Linked DNA regions of Homo sapiens. The protein of the gene in region 1 purifies or fractionates together with the protein of each later gene. This does not show direct contact. Each region holds a gene or a part of one and is shown on either strand. Other genes may lie near its edges.

Region 1 (3,500 bases):
ACAAAATATGATATTATTAAAATAAAAGTGTGTTATATCAGATGGGGTTCAGGGAATATTTAAAAATTATTTTTAAGAAATACAGTGCAATTTTTAGTTTACATTTAGATGAAGCTTACTAGATTAAAAGTGAAGTAAACATGAAAACATGTCACACAAAAGAAGGGGAAGCAGTAAATATAACTTGTTTGAAGAACTGCGTCTACATAGAACAAGAGATCACAAAACTGGAGATAGGGTATATAAAGAACATTTGTTAAGTAAGTTACTCTTAATTAAGATCAGGTTTTGGACTACCAGCTGATAATTTTGAAGTATGTCAGCTAATGATTAAGACTATTCTTCTGCGCTGCCCCACACAAACATTTTTTAAGTGTTGGTCATTATGCAATCCAATTGCTTTTAAGATAGCATTTATGCTTCTCTCCTGCTGTTTTTTTTTTCCTATACATAACCAACAAGTTATTAAAAGAAAAACAGAAGCTTTATCTCATCCAAATGCAACTGGGAAAATATACTACTACATGATGCCTATAAATGTCATATGTGGTGAGCTCCTCCAGATTTATATTTCATGAAAATAATGGTTGATGTCATTGCCAGACATCTTGCAGTTACCAGGACTTTGTAATGCTGAACAAACAAATTAACATTATTTTTCTAAAAAGTACTACTGAATAAATCTGAAATTATTATCTAAGCATGAATACATATTCCTTTTAAACCAAAGCATATTTTGAAAAGCAGTAATGCAAAAAGATTTAAAACCTACTACACACTGTATAAAAACAGAATATTTAGGATACTTGTCCTTGAGATACACAATATTACATAATGAATAGTTTTTATGACACACATAGCTAAAAACAACTCATGTTTCTTCTCATTCATAGAAGAGTTATTTGGTTTGGCCGACAGATGTGGAATTTTGGTTCTACAAAAAAGAGTACTCCAGGATTCTGCAAAGAGCCAAAAATTACATGGGCAGATGACATACCATATACTACTAGCCTTTACAAACAGCTCTCTAGCAAGAAAGCCAACCTTAGTCTTGTGTCTCAATGTAATTCTCTTGTTTAAGTGTAAGGATTATAGTTATGCTAAATAGTGAGATGACAGTCAATTCTGTAACAAGTTCACTGCTTTCAAACAGATAAATATCATTGTAACTACAGGACCATCACAAATATCTTTCTAATAAGCCTACTCCAATTTGGTATTTGATCCTAAGTAGTATTTGCAAACATTATCTTTCCTTCTCATGGGGTGGAATTCCCATGCCCTTCCATATTTATAGAGAGAACTTTATTTATAATTGCAGTCAAAATTCCAGGTGTGGGAGAAATGTATGCTACTACTATTAAAGAGATGAGCAAATTTTATTTCATAAGATAATTTCCTCTACTTTTCTTAAAACCATTTCACAAAATTATTTATTCATCTGTTTATCTAAAACTTCGTGAGAATTTAAAAGGTAAGATTATGTTGAAGAAGCCACAACTAAACTATATATACATTTATAAGCAATGTATATATAAACTCTCTCTGTATCTATCTCTATCTCTATCTAGTAAAGAGGGGCTGGTCACAAAATTGAATACAAGTATCCATCAAATATTTCTCCATCATAAGTTGAGACAATAATTTTTATTGCAGGGTATCATGCCAAAATTATATTTTTAAAAGGATACTATGCTCAGGAACATCAGTTTTCTCAAAAATTCAAGCTATTCATTAATTCATTTACTTCACAAATATTTGAGTACATACTATATGCAAGGAAATGTGTCAAATACTGTCAAGTAAAATTATACAAAAGTTAGCTGGCCCTCTCCCCTAAAAGGCTTATGATCCACTGAGATCAGCACTCACATCCCTTTAAAATACTTTATCCCCTTGAGCTAGAAAATTTGAGTGAGGAAGTATTAGAAAATATTTGGGCATTCCTTAAGTGGTAATTACCTGATCTTGCAATGACATCACTGGATTATTTTTGGTAGTGTTGATATGAAGGACATGGTATTTATTCTTTGCACACAGGTCATAGGCGATATTGGTAAATGAAGTGCTTGCCGTTTTGGGAACTCTGTTATAAATGATCACCATGTCCTCTTCCTCATCTAAAGTGGCATCTTGCCGAGGGCCATCCATTGTATGTCGCTGCTCAATTTCTCGGACTTCGTGTCTTGCAATAGCCCTTTCTGGAAAGAAAAACAGATACGAACTAAGTTTTTAAGGACACTATAAGGAAGTTATGAACACTGAACTTTGGACCATGATTAGAAAAGATACAAAAAAGAAAACAAAAAACAAAAGCAAAGAACCAAGGGATATGGAAAACATGGGTAAATTGCTTGGGTTTCTAAGAGGATCTAGTTGATTCTAAAACAGCTGTACAGCCTGGAACATAATCTTCCTATTCAAGAACTAGGTAAGAGCTGTTGAAGAAATGTTTTGAGGACCAAAGCTTCAGAATTCCTTATGAAGGATAATACATATGTATATCAAGAACAAAAAGGAATAAAGAGTCAACAAATGCAGAATAGCACAGACCACAGAGTACTTCAGTGCAGTTCAAAAGTCACTTTACATTCTAATAGAATTCCTACAGCCTGAACTAATTCTCAAACACACAAAGATTGCATGGAATACTAAACTTCACAGTATAAAAATGCACTTAAAAGAGAAATTACTTATAATTTAAGAAAAGGTTTTGAAATTTATTACCCGATTTAGTTATTCTCTGGTTTATAAAAATGTAGCAGGACAGTGATTATAAAGTGATTATAAATTATAAATTAAAAAACTGTAACAGGACAGTGATTATAAAGTGATTATAAATGCTAATATGACTTAACAAGAGTAGAAACAATATGACTTAGAAGGGTAGAAACAATACTACCATAAATCCTTTTTCTTTTTGGTGTTGCATTAGAAACTATGTTTAGCACATGGCTATGCTTTTCACTTAAATTTCATGGTTCCTCTAAAATTACCTATCTGCTATGTGGTTTCAAAAGCAGTTACATTTTGCTTTCTAGTATTCTCTATTTAATGCAAACTTCAGCTTCAAATATATATATTCAAATATCTATACATTCTAATATACATTCAAATATATATTTTTTCTTTTATAAATATATATGAATAAGGATGCAAGAAAAGGAGAGGAAAGAAGGAAATGAGGAGCGTGAAATCTCTAGCAAGATTGCAAATACTTTGCACGGGGATAGTTACACATATAGCACGTACTCTCTTAACCCCCAAGTCTTTGTGCAAGCTATCTCACCTATCTTGAACAATCTTCCATTTCCCCACCCAACCTTTACATTTCAACTCAATTGCTTCCCAGGGAAGCATCTGATAGCTCTGACTAGGTCAAATCATCTTTTTTTTTTTTTTTTTCGGAGACAGAGTCTCGCTTTGTCACCCAGGCTGGAGTACAGTGGTTCGAACTTGGCTCACTGCAACCTCTGCCTCCTGGGTTCAAGCAATTCTCT
Region 2 (3,500 bases), on another chromosome or scaffold:
TATCTTAAGCTGCTACATTTTGATGTAATTGGTTATGCAGTAATAGATAATACAGAAACCAATGGGAGGAATGCATTTATTGCCTTTATTATTCATCTTGCTGTGATGGTCTTAGCTGTAATCCTGCAGTTCTGGGGGCAACATGTAGAGTGCTCAGTCACAGGAACCTGGGACCCTGCTTATATCAAAGGAAACTGTTTCAATTTGGCCCATGTTATCTCCTTCTCCAGGCTTTCATCCAGTTTCCTACTTTATATTCTAGCAACAATGAACTACCTATTAGGACTTCTTTGTGAGATCTTCATGGCTTCCTGCTTCAACCTTCTGTACAGGCTATTTTGGTTTCCTCCAACCAGAAAACCCCCCGGCACATCCCAATATGTTAAGATCCAATTCATATGATCACATTATTTATTACTTCATCACTATTTATCAATTACCTGCTAGGTACCTATATCAGTTAGGGATATATTAGCTGCAAATACCAGAAGCCTAACCTCAGTGGTCTAAACAAAGAGAGGTTCATTTGTTTCTAACATGACAAAAAGTCTGGAAGTAGGCACCTAATGACATGAAATCATGGGCTCAACAATGACCTACAATTCTTTCAGTTTCTGTCTCATGGTCACATCATAACCTCAATAAAGGCAAGAAGGAGGAGCAAGAAGCTGTACTAGATTGGCTATTCCTCTTAATCAAGAACACAAGAGCTTTTTTAGAACCTCCTGTAGATTTTGCTTCTGTCTCATTGGCCAGAACTAGGTTACATGGCCACTGTAGCTACAACAGAGGCCAGAAAAGGCATCTATTTAGCTTGACAGCCTCTCCAGTGAGAACAGTAAGGGAAAGGGGATTGGAAACTGGATTAACTAATTCACTGTGGCTGCCACAGAGTTGGGGATACAAGTGTCTGGGACTTGGGAGGGTGGAAGGCTGCTGAGATGGCTTCTTTGACATCTAGCTTAGGTTAACTCATCTCTGACTTACCTTTAATAAACCACAAGCGACATTTTATTGAAAAAGCCTGCTTATGTGTCTTTCCTATCCACTGGACAGTAAACCCTTTAGGAAGGGAAGTGGTGTTTTCTCCTTCTTGGGATTTCAGCTCGAAGCACAGAGCCTGGCCCAGAGTAGGGATCAGTGAAGACTGAAACAGGGCACTGGCAGGCTGGAGGGCATGTACTCTGAGCTACAGTGTGAAGATGAAAAGCTCTCAGCCTAGGCGGGCCGTGGTCTCTCCATACTTCCTTTGAGGCAGCAGGAATACCCCCAACTGTGTGGGAAGAAAGCAGTCAACAAGCTGCTGCTAGCTTTTTCCCAGGGAGGTTGGATGGTTTAATGAGATATTTGCAAAGTGTGCCAAGCTATTCACAAGAGCAGCCTCGTGATGACTGTATCTGAAAAGGTGGCTGTTTTTTTTTTACAACTGTTATGAAGTCTTTCAAAATCCTGTTTCATTTTGACAAAATATACATTGTTAGCACCATTAAAATATGTAACAGCATCTCAGGTAACCTGGGGCTCTCATCCATTTTTCCAAAAGTTCCCAGAAACTATAAATTAGAACAATTTGTTTGAATGGTGGCATCAACAGCAATGAAGTGTGATGCTGAGAAGGAGAATAAATGACCTTTAATAAGTGCCTCTCTTTCTTTTTTTGCTGTGGGCATACTGAGCCACACTGTTCTAGTGGTGACTGTGCTATGTCTGGGCCATATCGCAGGCTGAAGGACACAGGAGTGCACATTCCCAGGATCAGTAACAGGGTCAGTGCACCTGTACCATGTGTACACTCAAATTTGCTTCAACTAAGTACCCTCCCAAGCCAAACCCAGCGAAATACAGTGATAGGGCTAAAATGGAATCACTCCAGGGATCCACCAGGACAATAAACTGGCTCTAATTTGAGTGCAAATCTCATCAGACACAAGGCAAGATGCATGCTATAAAAGTGTCCCATCTGCCCTTATCATCTAATAATATCTAGTGAGACGGAGCAAGTGAGGGAGACTTCTGCTATTGGGGAAGGCTTCTCATCAATAAGCATTTAATGGAGGCCAGAGAGTGATAATTGCAGCTGAAGGATTTAACAAGTTGAGAATGTGGTGTACAGGCTTGTTGGAATTTATCATTAAACTGGAGACAAGGCAAACAGGTTCTACCTTTGGCTCCCGCCCCCTCCCCAGCTTACTGCCTCCCACTCCATAGTCATCTAGACAGCATTTCATCCCACTCCTCAAGCACAACATGCTGCTTCTGCAAAAGCAGTCATGACCACCTGAAACGCCATCCTGATGATCTGCCTTCAAGGTTTTCTCCCTGGAATATTTACCTCCCCCCTACTGCCCTCACCACCATGCTAACTCTGTACTTGTTACATATTTTATCACCTTTTTGTTTCTTCACCAGAGAACTGTCATTTTTTTAATGCATGTTGCTCTTCTCCAAGTGGAAGATAATATCTTAGAGGTTTTTTATTTTTTATTTGTTTTTTTAAGAGACAGGGTCCCACTTTGTTGTCCAGTTTGGAGTGCAGTGGCATAATCATAGCTCACTGCAGCCTCAGACTCCTGGGCTCAAGTGATTAGAGAGTGGTTTTTAAATTCATCTTGGTCCTTTCAACTCCTAGCACTGTGCCTGGCACCAATAGGTACTCAGGAAATGTGTGTGGAAAGAACAACAGAGTCAGTGTCTATCCCTGACCAAGTATTTTTGTCAGATGTCTACCTCCTCTCTTTGGTTCTGTCCCAGTCAATGGAATGAGCCTTCCAGAGATATAAAGTGAACTTTCTGGCTCCCTGAAGGCACACAAGATCCCTCCCCAAAGCCCCACTTCACCCGACTCAATCTGAAACTTAAAAAAGACATCCTTGCCTATTGGGCCCTCTTTACCACCATGATCCTGTCAACAGGGATATGCTGGCCTCCTGCACATTGACACCAAGGTCATCCCTCTGCCCTACAGAACTGGAGGTTGATGGCTGTCCATTTGCCAAGACAGTCCAGACAATTCCTTCCAGATTTTACTGCCTAGACATTGCTCACTGCACTGGTTTTCAGAGTCCGTCCAGTTTCTCTACAACAGCCTGGTCTCTGGCACTGCCCTGACTGCCATCTACTCAGTGGACAACTGCTTATTAAGCATCTACTAGTGGCCAGGCCCTCTACTGGACAGTAGGATGCAATAGGAGGCAATGCAGATGCAGCCCTCACCCTCAAAGAGCTTCCAGTCATCTATGGGAAGGACAATTCAATAGGCAATAACCCCCAGGGTAAGGGATCAGGGCTCAGGGCTTAACACCTCACTGCAAGAGGCTGAATAATTGGCTCCTGAAAATGACCGTGTCCTAATCCTTGGAACCTGTGAATATGTTATATTACATGGCAAAAGGGACTTTACAGATGTGATTACATAAAGAATCTTGAAATGAGGAGGGTAGCCTGGATTACTCAGTTTTATCATGAAGGCCCCCATAAAGAGGGCAGCAACGGGGCTAAAC
Region 3 (4,170 bases), on another chromosome or scaffold:
GCTGCTCTGTGGTGTCCCACAGCTCTTGACCTCTTGCTCTCCCTGTCCCCTGAGAACCTGAAGAAGGAAGTGAGAGATGGCTCCTCAGGATGCAGCCGGCAGAGGCCAAGGCTCCAGGACTGACAGTAGGGTAGGTGGAGCTGATGCAGTGGGGTCCACTTTGTCCTGGAGCAGGTGGGGCCCTTGGTACACATTCAGGGCATGCACCTCACCTTGACTCCTGGCACTGTCTGGGCCCTTTCTGCTCTGTGACCTGAAAACACTGCCTTAGACCAAGGCCTCACCTCACAGTCCCTGGAGCTCCTGAAAGAGGAATTGAGGGGCCCTCAGGGTTCAGGCTGCAAGCACAGCCCCAGCCTCCCAGTGTTGTCAGGAGGGTGGGCTGGACTCTGTGAGTTCCCCACTACCCTGGGGTGGGGAGCCTCTGTGCTCACGTGGGGCTCTCACCTTTCTCCTGGAAAAGCCTAGACCCTGCTCCTTTGCTGGTCTAAGAAACTCTCAGATCAAAAGCTTACATCCCTGATACGAAATAGAAGACATGAGGGGACCCACATCTGGCCACAACTGCAGAGGTCCTCCCAGAAAAGACAGCAAGAGGTGGCCATATTCAGCTGGGTCCATGTGTACTGGGGTGAGGAGCCTGCTTGGTCCTCTTCTTGATGCCTGATACGACCTGGGACCCTCCCTTTGTTGATCTGAGGCCACTTCCTTAAACCAAGGTCCTACCTCCAGGAGACATGGAAAGAGGAAGTGAGGGGAGTCCATCTACCCCCAGTTCCCCATGAATTCCCGTGGCTGACAGAAGGGGTAGGGTGGGGCTGAGTCCTGTGCGTTTGGAGAATGGTGTCCCCTCAGTCCTCACCTTGACTCCTGGCAGGGTCTGGGACCCTCCCTCTGCTGACCCGAGTGCAGCTCCCTTAGACCAACACCTCTCCCTCCCAGAGACCAGTGATCCTTGTATAAGACAGGGAGACTCAGCGGACAGCCCTGACTGGGTTCTCCAGAGTGACAGTAGGGTCATGGCAGATTTCTGTGGGGACCCCATCTGTGTTATGGGCTGGGGGTACCCTCAGATTTCCCTCAGGTTCCTTACCTGGACTCTTGTCAGATCCTGCGACCCACTGTGTCTGTAGAAAAGAGGGGTTCCCTGTGTTGACTTGAGTCACCCTCTGAGAGCAAGGTTCTCACCTCCCTGAGATTCCAAAACAAAAGTAAGAAGGAGCCACATCCTGTCATCCCTGTGGGGTGTCCAGGGCTGATATCTCCCCTTTACACCAAAACTCCATTTCCCTGAGGGTTCCTCATCTTCCTGCCTGTGGTAAAATTGAGCTTGCCACTTAGTGCCAATCCTGATCAGGTCCCCTCAGAGCTAAGAACAGGGGACAGCCAGACTCTGTGACATCCCTTCTTTCTGGGCTGCAGGTACCTCCAGTCCTCACTAAGGGGGCACCCCTTGGGTCCTGCAGATTCTGGGACTCCTCCCTCTGTTGACCAAGTGTGGAACCCTGTAATAACTTCTTAGCAACCCTCAGACCAAGGTCCTCACCTCCCTGAGACCCGGCAGGCAGAAGTGGGGAGGGGCACCACACGATCACACCTGCATGGGATTCCCAAAGCTGACAGAAGGAGCAGACATTTGGCGGGGGGGGGGGGGGGGGTGGTGGGCAGGGGAGGGGGACAAGACGGGGACTTCCTTTATTTGGGTGTCCTCCAGGTATTCAGATTTACTCCCGACAGGGCCCAGCCCTTTCCCTCCTGCTGAATCGTGTATGGGTCTTGCACGCCAAAGCCACCATCTCCCTGGGATCCCCGGTGAGAAAGTGGGGGCCACTTCTCTTCCTCACCGTCCTGCCTGGGGTTCCAGAGCTGATAAGAGGGACAGATTTCCTAGTTCTGAGATGCGGGGATCTGCTGAGTCCTCCCTCAGGGCTCTGGGACTCCTCCCTCTGCTGACCTGAGGCTCCACTCCTCAGACCATAGCCCTCTCCTCATTGACACCCCAAAGGCACAGCAAAGACACATCACATGGGCCACCGTGCCTGAAACCACCCAGGGCTGAGGTCCCCACTGATCTGGACTCCAAGGTCCCTTGAGTCCTTTCTCTTCTTCCTCCCCTTGACTCTTGGCTGGGTTGTTCTCCTCTACCACGCCCCGCCGCAGACCTGAGTCACCGTCCCTTGGATTCCTCAGGCCGAGTGAAGAGACATCTCGGTCTGAGACAGAGGTGGGGTGGGCACCCTGTCCTGGGATCCCTTCATGCCTCCCTCATTTCCCAGCAGGGCCCGGGCCTTCCCTCTGCTCCCCTGAAGCCGCATTCTTGGTACCAATATCCCCTTCCCTACGTCAGCCTCAGATGCCGACGTCAGAATTTGCGTTCCTGGTCGCCATGACCAGGGCTTCCCAGGGCCGACATCAGGGGCAGAGCCCTCCCTGAGCGTCCCGACATTGATGCTGGCAGAACCTAGGCGCGGCTCCCGCCGAACCAGCCGGGCCCTGGTCACACCAAGCTCTGACTCCCAGAGTCCCCTGCGGCTTAAGCGGCGGGAGAGAGTGGGGGCGGGGGTGGGGGGGGGGTGACAGCCCAGCCTGAGAAGTCTGCCCTCAGGTGGTCCAGAGCTGGCAGCAGAGGCAGCGCTGTATTATTTAGGGCTTTCTATCTGGGTTGGGGGCGTCCTCAGTCCTCCCTCAGCCTCTCACCTTGCCTCCTCACAGAGCCTGGGCCCGCTCTCTTCAGCCGATCTCAAGCCTGTCCCTCAGAACGAGAACCTCGCTTCTCTCTGATCCCCGAGGCGTAAGTTAGTGGCGTCACATCCGGTCCCCGGGGCTTCCCTGGGTTGACAGCAGGGGCGGAGTGGATTCTGCCGGAACTGGGGTGGGAGTTGGGGTGGGAGTGAGGGTGGGAGTCCGGGTGGGGTGGGGTACGGGTGAGGATGGGGTTGGGGCAGGGGTGGTGGTGAAGATGAGTGTGGGGAGGGGCGTGGAGGTGGGAACTGGGATGGGGATCTTGGGGCTGTGGGTCGTGGTGGGGGTGGGGGTGGGGTCTTTCAGTCATCCCTCAGTGTCTCGACCTTGATGCCTGGAAAAGCCTGGACCCCTGTTTTGTGCTGAGGATGTCTTCTCCCCTTAAACCAGGTCTCTTGACTCGGAGTCTTCCAAGGTGGCAGTGAGGGGAGGGTTGTGGTAGGGGTGACAACATTGCCAGGGTCTTCCAGGGCTGACAAGAGGGGCTCAGCTGGATTCTGTGGCCCCTTTGTGAGGGGTGGGTGGACCCTCGGTCCTCACTCAGGAGGGTCTTCCTCCTGGCTTTTGTCTCTTTGATGAAGTGATGGGTGGGAGATGCTCAGTTTCCGTCACCTCTGATCATTTGCCCAGCTGCATCCCTTGCAGAGCATGGGTGCGGTTCCCAGGCCAGATGGTCCCTGGGGAGCTGCAACACCCGTGATTGTAATGACCTATGGGAGAAGACGCACACCTTCCCAACGGGGCTCTTCCCAAGCCACAAGTAGACTTGGCAAACTTTTTGTCCTAAAGGGTATATTTTCTACAAGAAAGAGGCTGAGCATCGGGGTGTGGAGAGGTCCTGCTGTTTTGAGTTTAGCTGATATTTTATAGTCCAATGCAGTGATGTCTGGTTTTCTAACCCTCATTCCTAGTAAAAATATGTGTTTTAAATGTCTGCCAAGTGTATATTGAATACATATATAACATTTCATGAAAGAATACCTACCTTACGCTGTGTGGTTCACTGCTTATTCTATTTCTGGTCTATTCTTTATATTCTATTATAATAATTTTTCTCTTTTTTTCTGAGCAAGAAAATTTAATATAAAGAATTATTAACTTGTAGCAGAGGATCAACTAAGACCAGTCGTCACTGTGGTGGTTTTAGGTGGTTAGCAGCATAGACTCCGGAGTCATACTCCCTCAATCAACCCCGTCTTTCCTGCTGTCCTGATATCACTCCAGAGCTACTGGGCTACTGGCATCGTGGTATGAAGTGTTGCCTCAGATTGTGCAATAAAGCAGGGCCAGAAATTCAAATATTTCTTCCTACTCGTCCTCTTATTTGCCGTCTATGCAGGCTGCGGACCTCCGCAAATGCACTGTTGTCCTCCACTCCCCCTACTCCAAACACAAGGTCCAATTCGAAATTCTGCAGTCTGCTTAGGG
Region 4 (3,500 bases), on another chromosome or scaffold:
AATGATATAACCAGAATTTCCATAAGATTTTTGCCATCTAAAAATAGTTTTAAGAAATGCTTGAATGCACAAAAGGTTAACTTTCCACAGAATCTTTTCTACTTCCCCATAATATTGTTTTTAAAAATTCTAGGCCGGGCACGGTGGCTCATGCCTGTAATCCCAGCACTTTGGAAGGCCAAGGTGGGTGGATCACTTGAGGTCAGGAGTTCAAGATCAGCCTGGCCAACATGCTGAAACCCCATCTCTACTAAAAATACAAAAATTAGCTGGGCTTGGTGGAATGCACCTGTAGTCCCAGCTACTCAGGAGGCTGAGACAGGAGAATTGCTTGAACTCAGGAGGCAGAGGCTGCAGTGAGCCAAGATCGCACCACTGCATTCCAGCCTGGGCAACAGAGCGAGACTCCATCTCAAAAAAAATAAAAATAAAAATATAAATAAAAATTCTATAATAGAATTTAAGAAATATTCCCCATAGACATGGATATACTGAAAAATCAGTACATTGTGATGTTGACCTGGATGAACAGTAACTCTTTTATACGTTTGTTTCCCTTTGTCAATATTTGACTTTGACATTTAAAAACACGTATTTAGCAACACAGTTGAAACCACAGTGAAAAATTACTCCTAGGTATATGAAAGTGTTATTATACATATGCATGAAATCCACATAGCACACAGACCTCCATTAAAAGTATACACATCTCAAAGTTCTCTCCCAATACCTGTTCCCACAAGAGATGTTAACATATGACCTTGAATCACACAGGTGACGCTGTCAGCCTGATGAGGGCAGAGATCTATTTTGAAAACAGAACTCGGAAAACTATGGGGCAACACTGCCTTGCCCTCAGAAAGGAAAGATTGTGTGAAGGGTAATCTTTCCCTGTATCTTCAGAAAAAGATGAGACACTTTGGCATCATAAAACTGTCCTTGAAAATGTTACTTCTGATAAAGTGTCGTAGTCCCAAAGACACTCAGACCCAGAAGCTATTGCTGCACGCTATGAAAGTAACCTTTACCATAAAATCTGACTAGTTGGCTCCCTTAATAATATATTGACTTGGCAATGATATTTAAAACTGACACCTCTGTTTTCTGAAAGAAATACATATTTGTGTGAGTTTTATTTTTTATATTACTTTCTTCTTCATCCACATGCATGAAAGTCAAAATAAATGAAAGCTTCAACCCCACCAGCTTTCTTATTTAAAACGAAAAACAAAAACAAAAAACGCTTGAGTCTTGACTCATTTAAATTAACACAGAAAAAGAAAAAATGACAGTATAAGTTCATTTTAAAATGAAAATTATAAGGATAACTGGAATTTTCAAAATCATACTTTTATTCCTGAAATTTTATCCTTAAATGTTACACATGATATATCCAGAACATCTTTAAAAACAATACTTACTGTAATTGCCAGGAGATTTTTCTTCATAAGTAAAATGAAGTTGTAATTCCTCCTCTGACATCTGACAGATGAACACTTTCAGCAAACAGCAAATAATAAACAAAGCATTGTGTGTCTGCCAAATGAAGATGTGGCTAGAAAGACCAAAATCATACAAGAATCAATATTTAAACATAAGCACCATAGTTTATTTCTAGTTCATGATTTCTTCCTGATTTGACAACCGTTTTGTCCATCCTATTGGTAATATTAGGATAATGTCCATATCTTTTAATGGCTCATGATTTATTTCATTGTACCAGTGATATTATGTTTTACTTCATAGTTCATTCCATGTACTTTACATAGTGAATCTACTTAATAAAAATCTTTACTGATGACTGTAGGAATGACTGTTCTTTGTTCTTAATAGGTATACCACGTACATGCGATTAAAAGAGAAGAAAGCTACCAAAAAATTTAAAAAATTGTGGTAACATAAAAAGAATATATGCAAATATGTAACCAAAATTTTCGACGAGGCATTGCCAGCAGCACGGTAAAATACTTTTTATTTGTATTAATGACCATGAACTCCCAAGAAAAACTTTATTGGATTCAATGTAATTTGTTTATAAGCAAGACAATGCAAAATATTTTAATCTTTTCAGAGACTGACATCCAAACATGGTTTTGAAAAATGCTTCAGTGCATAAAAAGTTAACCTTCCATTGATGTAAAGAATATAACGGAAATAACTGCAACAGATGTAGAATGAAATAAAACTCAGACTAAGTCATCATTTAAACTAGATAGCAGCAGCAGTGATAATGGGGGGGAGGGGAATTACCTTCTTAACGATAATTACATCATTATTCACCTTCTTAAAGAATATAATCTAAAGATTGTCTAAAAAGCTGAAATCAGATTCCCGAATCTATAATCTCACCCCAGTGACTTAGACACTAACCTAAAACCTCTCTACCTTTTTTTCTTAATAATGAGAATAATTCCTTCACAGAGATTTTCAAAAGACCACAGTCCATTTCCATCAATAAATGAAAACTAAAATTCACATTGTTAAATATAAAGCAAACATGGTTTAATTAGCCAGCTTACTTCTGACATTCTGCTGAAAGTTTTAGTTCTTTGGTTCTAGAAAGGAAGACCTTAATTAGTGCACCAAGATTTCCTGTTCGAGGATTGTTTTCAACTGCAAGAGAAGAAAAGGTTTTAAAAAGTTAAATTTAAGAACTAAAATCAAAGTGAGCTTATCATAACATTTATAAAACCAAATGTCATATTAAAATTGCTCAGTGACCAACTTTACTGTTAATTTCATACCTAATTAGAGAACTAAGCAATGAGAGAAACTGCTGCTCTTGGTCTTAATTCTGAACATCAAAAACTGATTTGCAAAATGAAAATGATAGAAACAGTACAAGTAGCCATCTTATCTCAGAATCCAAAATCATAAAGGAAAAAATAGTTAATAGACACATTCAACTTACACACTAAATCTTTCTCTAGAAAGGAGATTTTTAAAAACTCAAAAATTGATTATCTATGTCTCCAGTATATAGAATATAATAAACTATAAAAGTTTATTAAATCTAAAACACTCTTCAGATTACAAATCATTTGAATGAAAAATTAAGAAAACATATCAACAAAGCAGTGTGGCTAGAAGGGGAGCTATTTGACCAGACAAAACTTTAAAGAATTTTTTTTTAACTTTAAACGATGGGCATTTCAGCAACTGTATCAGGAATCAGAAGATTTAGTTTCTAGATCCAGGTCTATAATTAACTGAATACTGAATCTCAGACAAATCACTGTACTTCTCCAACCTCAGTTTTCTCATCTGTAAAAGAAACAACAGCTAACATATGCTGAACAACATAGAGTAGGTGCTTTACATGCATTAACTCATTTAATCCTCACACCAACCCTCCAGGAAAAGCACTAGTATCACTTGCATTTCACCGATCCTCACCTGGAGGTTGTTACTTGCTCAAGGAAACATCCTTATCAACTGGCTCAAATCTTTGACTTTAAACTGCTAGGTTGAAGCAACCTCTATAATCAAGAAATTGGACT
Region 5 (3,947 bases), on another chromosome or scaffold:
CGGGATACAGGCGAAATTCCACACCCTCCCTCTTCTGAACTTTCACAGGAGTTACCCTCAACTGACACCTCCTTATGCGCTGCACAAGTGATTCGTGTCTTTTGCTCCTTCATACCCTCCCACAAAGCCTACACAGAGCCATGCAACTGTCAGACTTTAATAAATATTATGATTGACTAGTAAGTAGGAGGATGAAAGAGAAGAAACAGAGGCTAGTCATTATACTCCAGCAGTATGTCTATTTTTTAAGAATGGTTTGACATTCAGGATAGGCAAAGCAGCACTGCCTACTTAATTCCCTTAGAAAAGTCACCTCCCTTGGCCTGCAGCGTTTAGCAGGCTGACTCATTCCAGTTGCTCTGCCAGTCTTTTTTTTTTTTTTTTTTTTTTTTGAGACGGAGTCTCACTCTGTTGCCCCGGCTGGGGTGCACTGGCAGGATTTCCGCTCACTGCAACCTCCACCTCCCGGGTTCAAGCAATTCTCCTGCCTCAACCTCCTGAGTAGCTGGGACTACAGGCATGTGCCACCACACCCCGCTAATTTTTGTATTTTTAGTAGACACAGGGTTTCACCATGTTGGCCAGGCTGCTCTCAAACTTCTGACCTCAGGTGATCCGCCCGCCTCGGCCTCCTACAGTGCCGGGATTACAGGCGTGAGCCACCACGCCCGGCCGTGCTCTGCCAGTCTTAAGAGGAAATTCCTGGTCCTGCACACTCAACAAAAGCAGAGAGCAACTTGGCAGGACAGACAGCATGCTGGGAAAAGGAGGCAGTGGCTCCGGGATCAGAAGTGGCGGGATTTTTTGTTTCAGTCTTGCAACCAACTTTCATTGAGCAATGACATAGTGGAGGGCGAATAAGATCAAAGGGGCTGTACTTGGTATGGAAAAACCACAGAAGGGTGGAAGCTAAGCACCTTCGCCTTGAGAGTTGGGTCCATCCATACCTGAAATGGACCCCTGTGGACCCTTGACGAACAGGGCAGTGGCCTAGACATTCTCGTGTGTCTGTCACTCACCAGCTGGGGACTTTGTCAACTCATTCCTCTGTCTAAACCTCAATGTTCTGCTCTGGGAAATGAAATCAAAACTGTTAGTCCTCCCTCCCAGGGTAGTTATAAGAATTAGATAATATGTGAGTGAGTAAGCATTCTAAACACCATATAAATGTGGCTAGAAGTATTATTCACCAGTATGATCTAGTATTTTTGGCCCTCCTCTTCCCCTAAAGCGGAAGTAGGGCCGGGCGCAGTGGCTCACGCCTGTAATCCCAGCACTTTGGGAGGCCGAGGCAGGCGGATCACTTGAGGTCAGAAGTTCGAGACCAGCCTGGCCAATACGGTGAAACTTTGTCTCTACTACTAATAAAAAATTAGCTGGGTATGGTGGCACATGTCTGTAATCCCAGCTACTCAGGAGGCTGAGGCAGGAGAATCGCTGGAACCTGGGAGGCAGAGGTTGCAGTGAGCTGAGATCGTACCACTGCACTCCAGCCTGGGCGACAGAGCCAGACTCCCTCTCAAAAGAAAACCCAAAAAAGCTGAAGTAGGACTACGTCAAAGGCCCACCTGGGCAGGCTGGTCCAATACAGGACAAGGGACCTAAAGATAGATGGTATTTCATTTGGACCTGCAAATGAGTAAGAATGCCAGCTCCGGGTCTATTAAAAACCCCGCTCGGATGTCTCCCACAGGCAGAGCTGAGGTGGGGCCTTGCCTGAGGCTTCCAGGGATGCGCTGGCTTCCCTTCCAACCTCCTTTTCAGACAGCTCTGCCCATTCAGCGGTTCCTAATGCAGAAAGAATGGGCTCCCCGGAGCCTGCCGGCTTCCTTACAGGTCACCGCTAATGCCCTGTGACAGGCCCTTGGCCCACCCTGCCAGGCGGGCCTGGGCATCCTCGCGGCGGCCCATCCCTCGGGGCCGATTCCTCCGCAGCCATTAACAAAGGGGGTCTGGGGACTGCCTCGGAACTAGGGGGCCGCGTGGAGTGGGATGTCTAGGCCAGGGCCCGCCAAGGAGGAGCGGCCGGCTCCCGCCTCCGGGCCTGGGCAGGCAGCGCTAGGGGCCGGTCGGGAAGCACGAAGGAGCCCGGCCGTGGGTCCGGAGGCCGCAGTCGATGGGGACAGTTGCGGGGCCGGGGGTACCCACCTTCTGCTCGACGCCCTGCAAGCCCTGGCCCAGCTCCTCCCTCTGCCGGGAGAAGTCCTGGTGGCTGCGCCGGACCTGCTGGACCTCCTCCAGGACGTGGTGGACGCACCAGCCCGAGAAAGCGGCCGCCGCCACCAGGGCGAGGTAGAAGAGAAAGTTGAGCGCCCTGCCGAGCCTGCGCGAGCAGGACGCCGAGGACGAGGCGGCGGCGGCGGCAGCGGCGGCGGAGGCGGAGGAGGAGGAGGAGGACTTGCCGCCGCCGCCGCCGCCGCCGCGGTGGCCGCCCTTGCCGTGCGCCTGGTTCTGCGGGTGCTGCTGCGGGTGCTGCTGCGGGTGCGGCGCGGGCGGCGGCGGCGGCTGCTGCGGCGCCGGCGGCGGCTTCTTCGCCACGTCATCCGCGCCGCCCGACGGGTGGGCACCCTTCTCCGAGGGGCTCGCGGCGCCGTGGCCGCCCTTGGAGCCCCTTTGTTTGGCCGAGGGCATGGCGGGCGCGGCGGCGGCTCGGGCCGCGGGCTGGGAGGCGAGCGAGCGCGGCGCGCGGCCCGGGAAACTTGCAGGGGCTCCCCCGGGACTGGGCGAGCGGCACGCGGGCGCTGCTGGCGTCGGAGCGGCGAGAGGACGCGCGGCCGGGGAAGGAGGCCGGGCCGAGGAGGCGGGAGGAGGGGGCCTGCCTCCGCCGCCGCGGCGCCGACCCCGCCTCCCGGTAAGGGAGGCCGAGCGAGCCGAGCCGGGAGAGCTTGCCACGCACGCCGGCCCGGCGGCCCCTCCTCCCCGCCGCCACGACCCCGGAGAGGGAGGGCCGGGCGGGGTCTACGGGGGCCGGGAAGCCGGCGCGGGGGTGGCTGGGCGCGGGGCGGGGTCCCGGCGGGGTCTGCGGAGGCCGGGGTGGGCACCGAGGTGGCCGCGAGGGGAGGGGAGAAGAGCGGAGCGGAGGGGAGGGGACGCGGCCGAGGTGGGGCTGGCGGCCCGGCGGGTTCCACGCAGGCTGGGGGCGGAGGGCCAGATCGACCCCAGCCGGGGCGGCCGAGCAGGGTCCACGGGGGTCGGGGATGGGCGGCCAGGCGGGGTCGGAGGGACGAAAGCCGGGGTGAACCTGCGCCGCGGGCCAAGCGCGACCCCCTCCCTTCCCGACCTGTGCGGAGAGGAGAGAAATGAAGGGGGGCGCCCAAGGAGCCCTGGCCCCGGGAGTGGGAGTCAGCGGGTGGGAACAGATCGCCCTTCCTTTCCGCTGGGAATTGGGGGACTCCCCCTGCTTTCACTCTCCCAGCCCGCCATGGGGTTGGGCCTTGTCCTTTGCCTTGGGTTTGAAGGCGGAGACAAAAAAGGCTGTCCAAAATCCAGCCAGCTTGGGAGGCATGGTTGATGCGAGTTAGCAAAGATTCTCGACTGTGGTAAGTCTGTTCAAGGGGACGCATTCACCAAGTGTCCCCGTTAGCCAAGTTAGCCTGCTGTGGCCAGCTCTTTACTTTTTCCCCCCGAAGCCCCTTCAGCTCTGTTTTCTCTTTCGGGGTCATGAAGTTTGTCCACGGCCCCTACTCCTGACAGCCTCTGGGATGGGTGCTGCGGAGGCAGCAGCAGCCACACAGAAAGAGGCAGATCAGCGTTGTCACCCCTACTTTTGTAAAAGGAAATCTGGTATTGCCAGGCTGTGTGGTTAGCGACTCACATATGTTCTCGAAATCTCACAAAAGCCCTGTGAGGTAGAAATTATTTTACCCATTTTATAGGAAGGAAATTGAGACTGAGCGAGCCGGCTTCGGATTGGCTCAAGGTCACATATAGTCATCATTCGAACCTCA
Region 6 (4,289 bases), on another chromosome or scaffold:
GGAGTTCAAGACCAGCCTGGCCAATACAGTGAAACCCCATCTCTACTAAAAATACAAAAAAAAAAACGCCAGGTACAGTGGCTCATGCCTATAATCCCAGCACTTTGGGAAGCTGAGGCGGGAGGATCACCTAAGGTTGGGAGTTTGAGGCCAGCCTGACCAACATTGAGAAGCCGTGCCTCTACTAAAAATACAACATTAGCCGGGCATGGTAGCACACGCCTGCAGTCCCAGCTACTCGGGCGGCTGAGGCAGGAGAATTGCTTGAACCTGGGAGGTAGAGGTTGCGATGAGCCAACATCATGCCATTGCACTCCAGCCTGGGCAAAAGAGCGAAACTCCCTCTCAAAAAAAAAAAAAAAAATTAGCCGAGCGTGGTGGCGGATGCCTATAGTCCCAGCTACTCAGGAGGCTGAGGCAGGAGACTAGCTTGAACCTGGGAGGCAGAGGTTGCAGTGAGCTGAGATCGTGCCACTGCACTCCAGCCTGGGCGACAGAGAGAGACTCCGTCTAAAAAAATAATAATAATAAAATCCCATACATGACAATTCAGTGACAATTGAGAAGTTCTGAATAATGGGGTGAGGAACTGATTGTCTTGTTCTCGGTAATGAACATCAGGCTTTTAACAGAGTGCATAGCAGCTGTCTTTTAGGAAACAACACGCCACAAGTGGACCTCATGACCCCAGGCATTCTGTCACTGTATAAGTGATATAAGTGCACCTCTAGCTGGACAGCTCCTCAGGTCCTCCCAGTCTAAAGTACAGGATGTGAAAGTAAGACGGTTCAACTCGCACTTTATCTCTGGGGGATGGATCCAACGAGTCCGGGAAGGAGGGTAGAATCTTTATGTTGCATCTCATAATCCCAAGGTTGTTTTTTGACATTCTAATTATTGTACATAGTTAGCTTTTCAAAAACATGGCCCACCAGCTATCATGCCTTCTTTCTTCTCTCTCTCCTCACACCTTCTAGGTCCACAAAGTCCCACTAACATCAAGCATGATCTCACCCTTAAACAGAGCTACAGAGCCTCCAAACATCTGCATACTCACCAACTAGTAGTACAAGGTAAGTCAGAATTCTTTCAGGCTGAACCAGGATAGCCAAATGAAAAATTAGAGACTTCAAAGTATCTTGTCTCTGCAAGCGACTGCTAAATCCTCAGCCCCAGCCCTAAATGTTCTCCAAAATATGTTTTTGTTTTTGTTTTTTGAGACAGGGTCTCAAACTCCTGGGCTCAAGCGATCCTCCTGCCTCAGCCTCCCTAGAAGCTAGGATTACAGGCGAGCAGCACTGTGCCTGGCCAAAATATATGTTCTAAAAATCGGTAGGAACAGTTCTCTTTGGATAGTCCACTGTCAACTGCAATAACACGAAAGTTGTTTAAAAAAAACCCATGATCTCATTATCTTTCACCAAAAACATTCCTCCTAGTGTAACTGCTCTGTTGACATCCTGTCACCAAATCTTGTGCTTTCTTCCTTCTGGGTGTCTCCCTAATGTCCGTTGCGTCCAGTCATCAAAAAGTTACAGGCTGCATTAGGGGAAGCCGTGAGCCTGGTGTAAGGCAACAGGGATTGGTGGGAACCGATGATCCTCAGCTCCAGCCAACCATTGAGCAGGTGACAAAGTGATGGTGGACCCTCCAATTATCTAAGACAGGCAAGAAATTTAGATTGTTAGGAGAAACTTTCTGATTTTTAAGGCAATATGTGGGCCAAAGAAAACATCTACAGGTCACTCATGGGCAATCCCGAGTGAACCAGGCTCCCTCAGTCTGGTCCAGGCTCCCTCAGTCCCTTCTACACATCACTGTCTGATCAGTTTCCCAAACACAGGGCTCCTGATCACTGCTATCTCGGAAAGCACAACTACTGCTACAAAGTCCTATACTGCCATTCAACCTCCACAGTAATAAAACCAATCCCTACCTTCCTTAACTCCCCTACACAGATCTTTCACTTCACCCAAAGGAGTCCACTCCCCCACCCGTCACCCCCGCCACTGTCCCCGCCAAGATGGCCTCCTTCCTACTCTCCTCCCCTACCCACCAGAGCCCACACGGTGCAGGAAACAACCCATCAACCGGGAGGACGCCCTCCAACACCTGCTGATGACGGACTGGCTCACTGGGTAACACCCCTTTGCTCAAAGCCGATGATTTCATGCCCAAGAAGGGATTTACATCTCCCAGGAGGCAAATGCTATGGCCTTGTCCTGATTCCCCCACCCCCCAAAATAATAACATTGTAAAAGGGAACGGAGAGCCTAAGTTGCGCTCAGAGGAGCCGCCTCCCTAAGAAGGCTCTGCATATCTTCACCTCCAGGAAGGCCTCACGGAGTTGGGGGAGAGGGGAGTCCCCGCAGCCAGCCCAGCGAGGCAGGAGGCCGTGCGCCACTCCCGAGAAGCTCCTTCCTGCGCCCCGGGGGAGCCACTTCAGTCAGACCCTGAGCCGGGACCCCGACCCGCCGACCCCTGACGCGCGCGCCGCGAAGGCCGGGCACCCGAGGGCCCTTCGCGCTACCCGGGCCCGGGGCCGCCGTCGGCTGCGACAAAGGGTCAGAGAACAAGACGACCCCTCTGCGCGCGTCCCCCGCAGGCCTCCCGGATGCGCCGCTGTCCCGGCCGCGCCCACCCCGACGCTGCCGCTACCTTGTCCTCGGGTGGCGCAACCGGCTCATGGGCCACCCTCTGCCTCAGCTCTGTCATCCTGGGAAAATCGGCCCGACGTCGCCGCGAGCTAGCAGCGAAGCCGCCGGAGCAGGCAGCTCGGCGCGGGCACGCGCGGACTCCCACGGCCGGCCCCGCCCCGCCCGGGAGGCGCGCGGCTCTGAGCGGCTCACAGTTCCCTTAGCAGCCCAGCAGCCAGCCCTGGAGCTCGGCCCCACCCAGTGCCGTCACCGCCCTTTCACCCGGGCCGAGCGGGGTCAGCCTTCCCTAGCCCCGACCCGAGAGCTCCCTCTCCCGGGAGCAGGGCTCGGAGCGAGTGCGCACGCGCAGCGCCACCATCACGGTCCGGAATATCCACCAATGGCGCAAATACGCCAGGGAGGCAGGGCGACGGGGGCGGGGCGGGGCGGAGCAGAGTCGAGAGGCGCGCATTGGACGGCAGCGTCAGGGGCGGGAAAAGGCGTGCGTTTCAGTGTGCGATTAGCCAATGGGAGCTCCCGCTTAACCGCGGATGGCCGGAGCTGGCGCCCTGGTTCTGGAGGTAACCGGTTACTGAGGGCGAGAAGCGCCACCCGGAGGCTCTAGCCTGACAAATGCTTGCTGACCTGGGCCAGAGCTCTTCCCTTACGCAAGTAAGTAGACGTTATTTAGGTCGAATGGAAAGGCCAGGTGAGCCGACCTGGTTAAGAGCATTTTATCACTTATCACATGATGAGAAATGAAACCCACGCTTCAGTCTGCTTTGCTTTGCCAAGCGGTCGCTAGTACTTGTTAAGCACTAATTGTATACTAGGCACTGAGCTGAGTAATCGCTTTAGTTGGCTTATCTCGTTTAATCCACACATGGCTTGGAAGTGGGTATGATTTGAATTTTACAGTTAAGATCTTCCTCAGTGGTTTGTTTGTTTGTTCGTTTGTTTGTTTGTTTTGTGACGGAGTCTCGCTCTGTCGCCCAGGCTGGAGTGCAGTGGCATGATCTCGACTCACTGCAACCTCTGCCTCCCGGGCGCAAACAATTCCAAGGTGCGCGCCACCACGCCCGGCTAACTTTTGTATTTTTAGTAGAGACGGGGTTTCACCATATTGGTCAGGCTGGTCTCGAACTCCTGACCTCAGGTGATCCGTCCGCCTCCGCCTTCCAAAGTGCTGGGATTACAGGCGTGAGCCACCGAGCCTGGCCCTTCCTCAGTTTTTCAAATTTGTCTTCTGGACTATGGAAAGACCTTTTTTGGGACAGAAGTGCTGTCTACTTTGTTTACTGTGCATCCTCTATGTCTTTGACACATCCATTGTAAGTACTTGTTGGATGGATTTAAAACTTTTAAAAGGACCTTAGCCAAGGTCTCCCAGCTAGAAAGTGCCTAGTAAGAATTAGAACACAAACAGGTTTGTTACCAGCCCACACTCTAACCACCATACTATACTGCCTGCCTGCATTTATTAATACTTGTGTTGCTCCAGCATTGCCTTTGGTGTTTCCTGTTCTTTCTATTCACTGCCCTGTAAGTGATGTAAAACACATATAACACTGCGTCCCCAACTTAAGCATACTGTAATCTCACAATGAGACACTTGCACACAAAAGAATTGCAATTTCGTTTTTTAAAAAAATA
Region 7 (3,500 bases), on another chromosome or scaffold:
TGCGTCCACGTAGCTCTGCAACTTGTTTCGCATCTCTTTCTCGTTAAATTTGGCACTGCGCTTTACATAGATTCCTCCATGCTGCCACAATCAAATCGGGAGAAAGAGCATTTACTTTTAAAATAACAATTGGCCAGAGTCATCAAAAAGGCAACTTCTCTTGCAAAAAGTACAGAATGAAAACTACATTTCAGAATTTAATCTATATTTAATATCTTCAAACATTAGCTTCTAAAGAACATTTAGCTGAAAATTGCCTTGTCTCAACATAATTCAAAAAAACTGCATGTGACACTGTATTGGAAAACACATGAAGTTTAGTTTTGTTGGCAGTTAAAATGAAAATGCTTTCTTTCTTAAATACACATTTTTAAAAATAAAAAACCTGATCCATCAGATGGATTTAACTCCCAATTCTTCCACCCACTTATTACAGAGTCACTAAAAAGCGTCCTTAACATGTCTCACGATCTTTAGGGATTTTAAAAAATCAATCCTGCTAAAGATATTTATGTGGCACTGTTACGGACAGAAGTGTGTTCCCCCAAATCAGTCTACTAAAGCCCTAATAGTTCCCACTGTGACTGTATTCAGAGAGAGGGACTTAGAGGTGGTAATTAAGGTTAAAAAAGGGCCTCAGAGTGGGACCTTAGCAGTCTCTGTAGAAGGATTAGTCATCCAGTGTAACTAGTCCTTCTAAGAAGAGGAAGCAGTGCCAGCGGTGCTTGGGCACAGGGAAAAAAACCACCTGAGGACACAGGAAGAAGGATGCTGTCTGCAAGCCTGGGAGAGAGGCCTTGGGAGAAACTAACCCTGTCAACACCTTGATCTTGGATGTCTAGCCTCCAGAACTGGAGAAAGTAAGTTTTATATATACAGTTTGCTTTTTTTTTTTAATATCATACAGATCACTAATTACTGTTATCAACAGTTTAATGTAATTGCCTATCAAATTCTATGCCTTTAAATTTCCTATTTGTTTGAACTTTGTACATTTGCATTTTTGCTCTTTCATTTTACTGCAGCTGGCCCTTCACATCCATGAGTTCCACATCTGCAGATTCAACAAATCACAGATCAAAAATATGTGAACAAATAAAAATTAAAAATAATATAACAATTAAAATAATACAAATAAAAAATAAAGTATAACAACCATTTACATGGCATTTATAATGTATTAGATATTATAAGTAATCTAGAGATGATTTAAAGTAGTGCACAGGTTATATGCAAATACTATCCCATTCTATATGAGGGTCTTGAACACCTTAGATTTTGGTATCTGTGGTGGTTCTAAAACCAATCCCCACAGATGCTGAAGGAAAACCGCATATGGATAATCAGACGTATATAAATACACACCACTAAAAATGCCAAACAAAATTACTTCAACTGAGAATAAACTATTAAACCCATTTTAAAAACCATACATTCACATGAAGTATATTGTTAAATTTTAAAATATAACATTTTTATAGGGTTGGGTATGGCAGTTCACACCTATAATCCAGCATTTTGGTAGGCTGAGACAGGCAGATTGCTTGAGTCCAAGACCAGCCTGGGCAACACAGCGAGACCCCCATCTCTACAAAAAATAGAAAATTTAGCCGGGCATGATGGTGGGCACCTACGGTCCCAACTACTTGGGAGGCAGAGGCAGGAGGTTCACTTGAGCCCCAGAGGTCAAGGCTGCAGTGAGCTGTGTTCACACCACTGCACTCAGCCTGAGCAATAAAGTGAGACTGTCTCCAAAAAAAAAAAAAAAAATTTATAAACTACATATATAGAGAGAAAAGCATGGAAACAAGTTACCTGAGCAAAGTAACACCCATACAATGGCAGCCATTTTAACCCTTCTTTCAGCACGTAGCGCACATGTCCTAGCGCATTCTGCCTGATGGCCAAGATGTCAGCAACAATCCAGTCAACTGCAGAGACAGGACCCAGTTAGCGCGTACATGAGGCTCTTCACAGGTTGTACTATGAATGGGCTTCAAAAGTACTATGATGGCCGGGCGCGGTGGCTCACGCCTGTAATCCCAGCACTTTGGGAGGCCGAGGCGGGCGGATCACGAGGTCAGGAGATCGAGACCATCCTGGCTAACACGGTGAAACCCCGTCTCTACTAAAAATACAAAAAATTAGCCGGGCGAGGTGGCGGGCGCCTGTAGTCCCAGCTACTCGGGAGGCTGAGGCAGGAGAATGGCGTGAACCCCAGGGGGCGGAGCCTGCAGTGAACCGAGATTGCGCCACTGCACTCCAGCCTGGGCGACAGCGAGACTCCGTCTCCAAAAAAAAAAAAAAAAAAAAAAAAAAAAAAGTCCTATGATTAGGATGTTTAAAATTTCTTTAAATCTATCTGAGATATTTAAAAAATATACATTTTCTGTTTTTTGAGCTTTTTTTTTTTGCATTTCTTGAAAGGCTTTTTATTTCAAAGATAAAATACAGTCACAAAATACCTAAATAATCCAACAGCAGCATGTGTATGGAACAAAATGAGCTTCTCTAAATCCTAAAGTCTAGAAAACAAAGTTTTTTTAATGAGAAAGGGGAAATTATAAACAAAAAATGGCCAAATGCAACTATGAATTGCCACTAAATATTCAGTGTGTATATATATGTTCAGCAAAAGGCAAGGACACTTCATCTTCTACTAATGAGTTTTTAGGACTCGGTACTAGGTTAGGACAGCAATCAAACAAAGGTCTCACATGCCTTACAATGATGCTGGGTAGATATATGTGCTCCTTATGTAACCAAGTAAAATGATCTCAGACTGCTAATAACTATAGTTAAATAAATATGTTATTAACAAAGGGTTGCAAAAACAAGGGTAAGATGGTATGAATTGATAACAGTAGCAATAAAAAACTTCCTAGAAGTTGTTAGTTGAGCTTTCAAAAAGAAAAAATTTCCAACACAGAGAGTGGCCCTTGCCAATTAAACAAACAGGAAGTGGCAAAGTGGGTGCAGAAGATGGGAAACAGAGGACATGGTTTAAAGAGGAAATGAAGTGAAATTCAGGAGACAAATGATACAGGTCTTAAGAACCGCAGAAACTTGGATTTGAAAGTAAATGGCTACAAACTATCTCCTGATGAGAAAGAAAACATAAAAATGAAATGTAAGGGAGACTTCTCTAGTTAATACACACATGAGCTCAACGATACTCGAAAAGAAAACTGTTAATCTGTGAAAAGAATAATTCTATCATCACCCATGTTCTCAGGCCATGAAAATGAGAACAAAAGGAGTGAGTCAGAGGAAGGAAATGTTAAAAAAAAAAAAAAGTCTGTAGAAAATAAAAGCTGAGGATTTAGAGGAATTACAATAAAGTTTTAGCCAAAGAGGACAGTTTTCCACAGATTACAAGATGATTAGCTCTCAGCTATGGGAAATCTATTAGACAATGCACCATACTAGTCAGAATATCCCAAAAAAGATTTAGCCATTTTAATACTAAAAATTAACCAAGAAAAATCTCTTATCCATTA

The links.
Region 2: the proteins of HS2ST1 (region 1) and NMNAT3 purify together in Homo sapiens (affinity purification with mass spectrometry; 3 studies listed by BioGRID and IntAct, with this or other methods). This does not show direct contact.
Region 3: the proteins of HS2ST1 (region 1) and MAGEA10 purify together in Homo sapiens (co-immunoprecipitation; one large-scale study listed by IntAct). This does not show direct contact.
Region 4: the proteins of HS2ST1 (region 1) and DYM purify together in Homo sapiens (affinity purification with mass spectrometry; 4 studies listed by BioGRID and IntAct, with this or other methods). This does not show direct contact.
Region 5: the proteins of HS2ST1 (region 1) and CKAP4 purify together in Homo sapiens (affinity purification with mass spectrometry; 3 studies listed by BioGRID and IntAct, with this or other methods). This does not show direct contact.
Region 6: the proteins of HS2ST1 (region 1) and CDS2 purify together in Homo sapiens (affinity purification with mass spectrometry; one large-scale study listed by BioGRID and IntAct). This does not show direct contact.
Region 7: the proteins of HS2ST1 (region 1) and AGPAT5 purify together in Homo sapiens (affinity purification with mass spectrometry; one large-scale study listed by BioGRID and IntAct). This does not show direct contact.

What each region holds. Positions count from the first base shown.
Region 1 is NC_000001.11:87,071,635-87,075,134, reverse strand, and holds part of HS2ST1 (heparan sulfate 2-O-sulfotransferase 1), read right to left. Parts: intron 2,202-3,500; coding exon 1,963-2,201; intron 1-1,962. UniProt on the Homo sapiens protein: Catalyzes the transfer of a sulfo group from 3'-phospho-5'-adenylyl sulfate (PAPS) to the 2-OH position of iduronic acid (IdoA) or glucuronic acid (GlcA) within the heparan sulfate (HS) chain and participates in HS biosynthesis.
Region 2 is NC_000003.12:139,629,473-139,632,972, forward strand, and holds part of NMNAT3 (nicotinamide/nicotinic acid mononucleotide adenylyltransferase 3), read right to left. Parts: intron 1-3,500. UniProt on the Homo sapiens protein: Catalyzes the formation of NAD(+) from nicotinamide mononucleotide (NMN) and ATP. Can also use the deamidated form; nicotinic acid mononucleotide (NaMN) as substrate with the same efficiency. Can use triazofurin monophosphate (TrMP) as substrate.
Region 3 is NC_000023.11:152,135,778-152,139,947, forward strand, and holds the start of MAGEA10 (melanoma-associated antigen 10), read right to left. Parts: upstream 2,801-4,170; 5' UTR 2,698-2,800; intron 1,193-2,697; 5' UTR 1,094-1,192; intron 304-1,093; exon of another isoform or gene 213-303; intron 58-212; 5' UTR 1-57. UniProt on the Homo sapiens protein: Not known, though may play a role in embryonal development and tumor transformation or aspects of tumor progression.
Region 4 is NC_000018.10:49,377,146-49,380,645, forward strand, and holds part of DYM (dymeclin), read right to left. Parts: intron 2,614-3,500; coding exon 2,520-2,613; intron 1,556-2,519; coding exon 1,422-1,555; intron 1-1,421. UniProt on the Homo sapiens protein: Necessary for correct organization of Golgi apparatus. Involved in bone development.
Region 5 is NC_000012.12:106,245,221-106,249,167, forward strand, and holds the start of CKAP4 (cytoskeleton-associated protein 4), read right to left. Parts: upstream 2,801-3,947; 5' UTR 2,632-2,800; coding exon 2,149-2,631; intron 1-2,148. UniProt on the Homo sapiens protein: Mediates the anchoring of the endoplasmic reticulum to microtubules. High-affinity epithelial cell surface receptor for the FZD8-related low molecular weight sialoglycopeptide APF/antiproliferative factor.
Region 6 is NC_000020.11:5,125,519-5,129,807, reverse strand, and holds the start of CDS2 (phosphatidate cytidylyltransferase 2), read right to left. Parts: upstream 2,801-4,289; 5' UTR 2,716-2,800; coding exon 2,659-2,715; intron 1-2,658. UniProt on the Homo sapiens protein: Catalyzes the conversion of phosphatidic acid (PA) to CDP-diacylglycerol (CDP-DAG), an essential intermediate in the synthesis of phosphatidylglycerol, cardiolipin and phosphatidylinositol.
Region 7 is NC_000008.11:6,729,142-6,732,641, reverse strand, and holds part of AGPAT5 (1-acyl-sn-glycerol-3-phosphate acyltransferase epsilon), read right to left. Parts: intron 1,932-3,500; coding exon 1,816-1,931; intron 82-1,815; coding exon 1-81. UniProt on the Homo sapiens protein: Converts 1-acyl-sn-glycerol-3-phosphate (lysophosphatidic acid or LPA) into 1,2-diacyl-sn-glycerol-3-phosphate (phosphatidic acid or PA) by incorporating an acyl moiety at the sn-2 position of the glycerol backbone.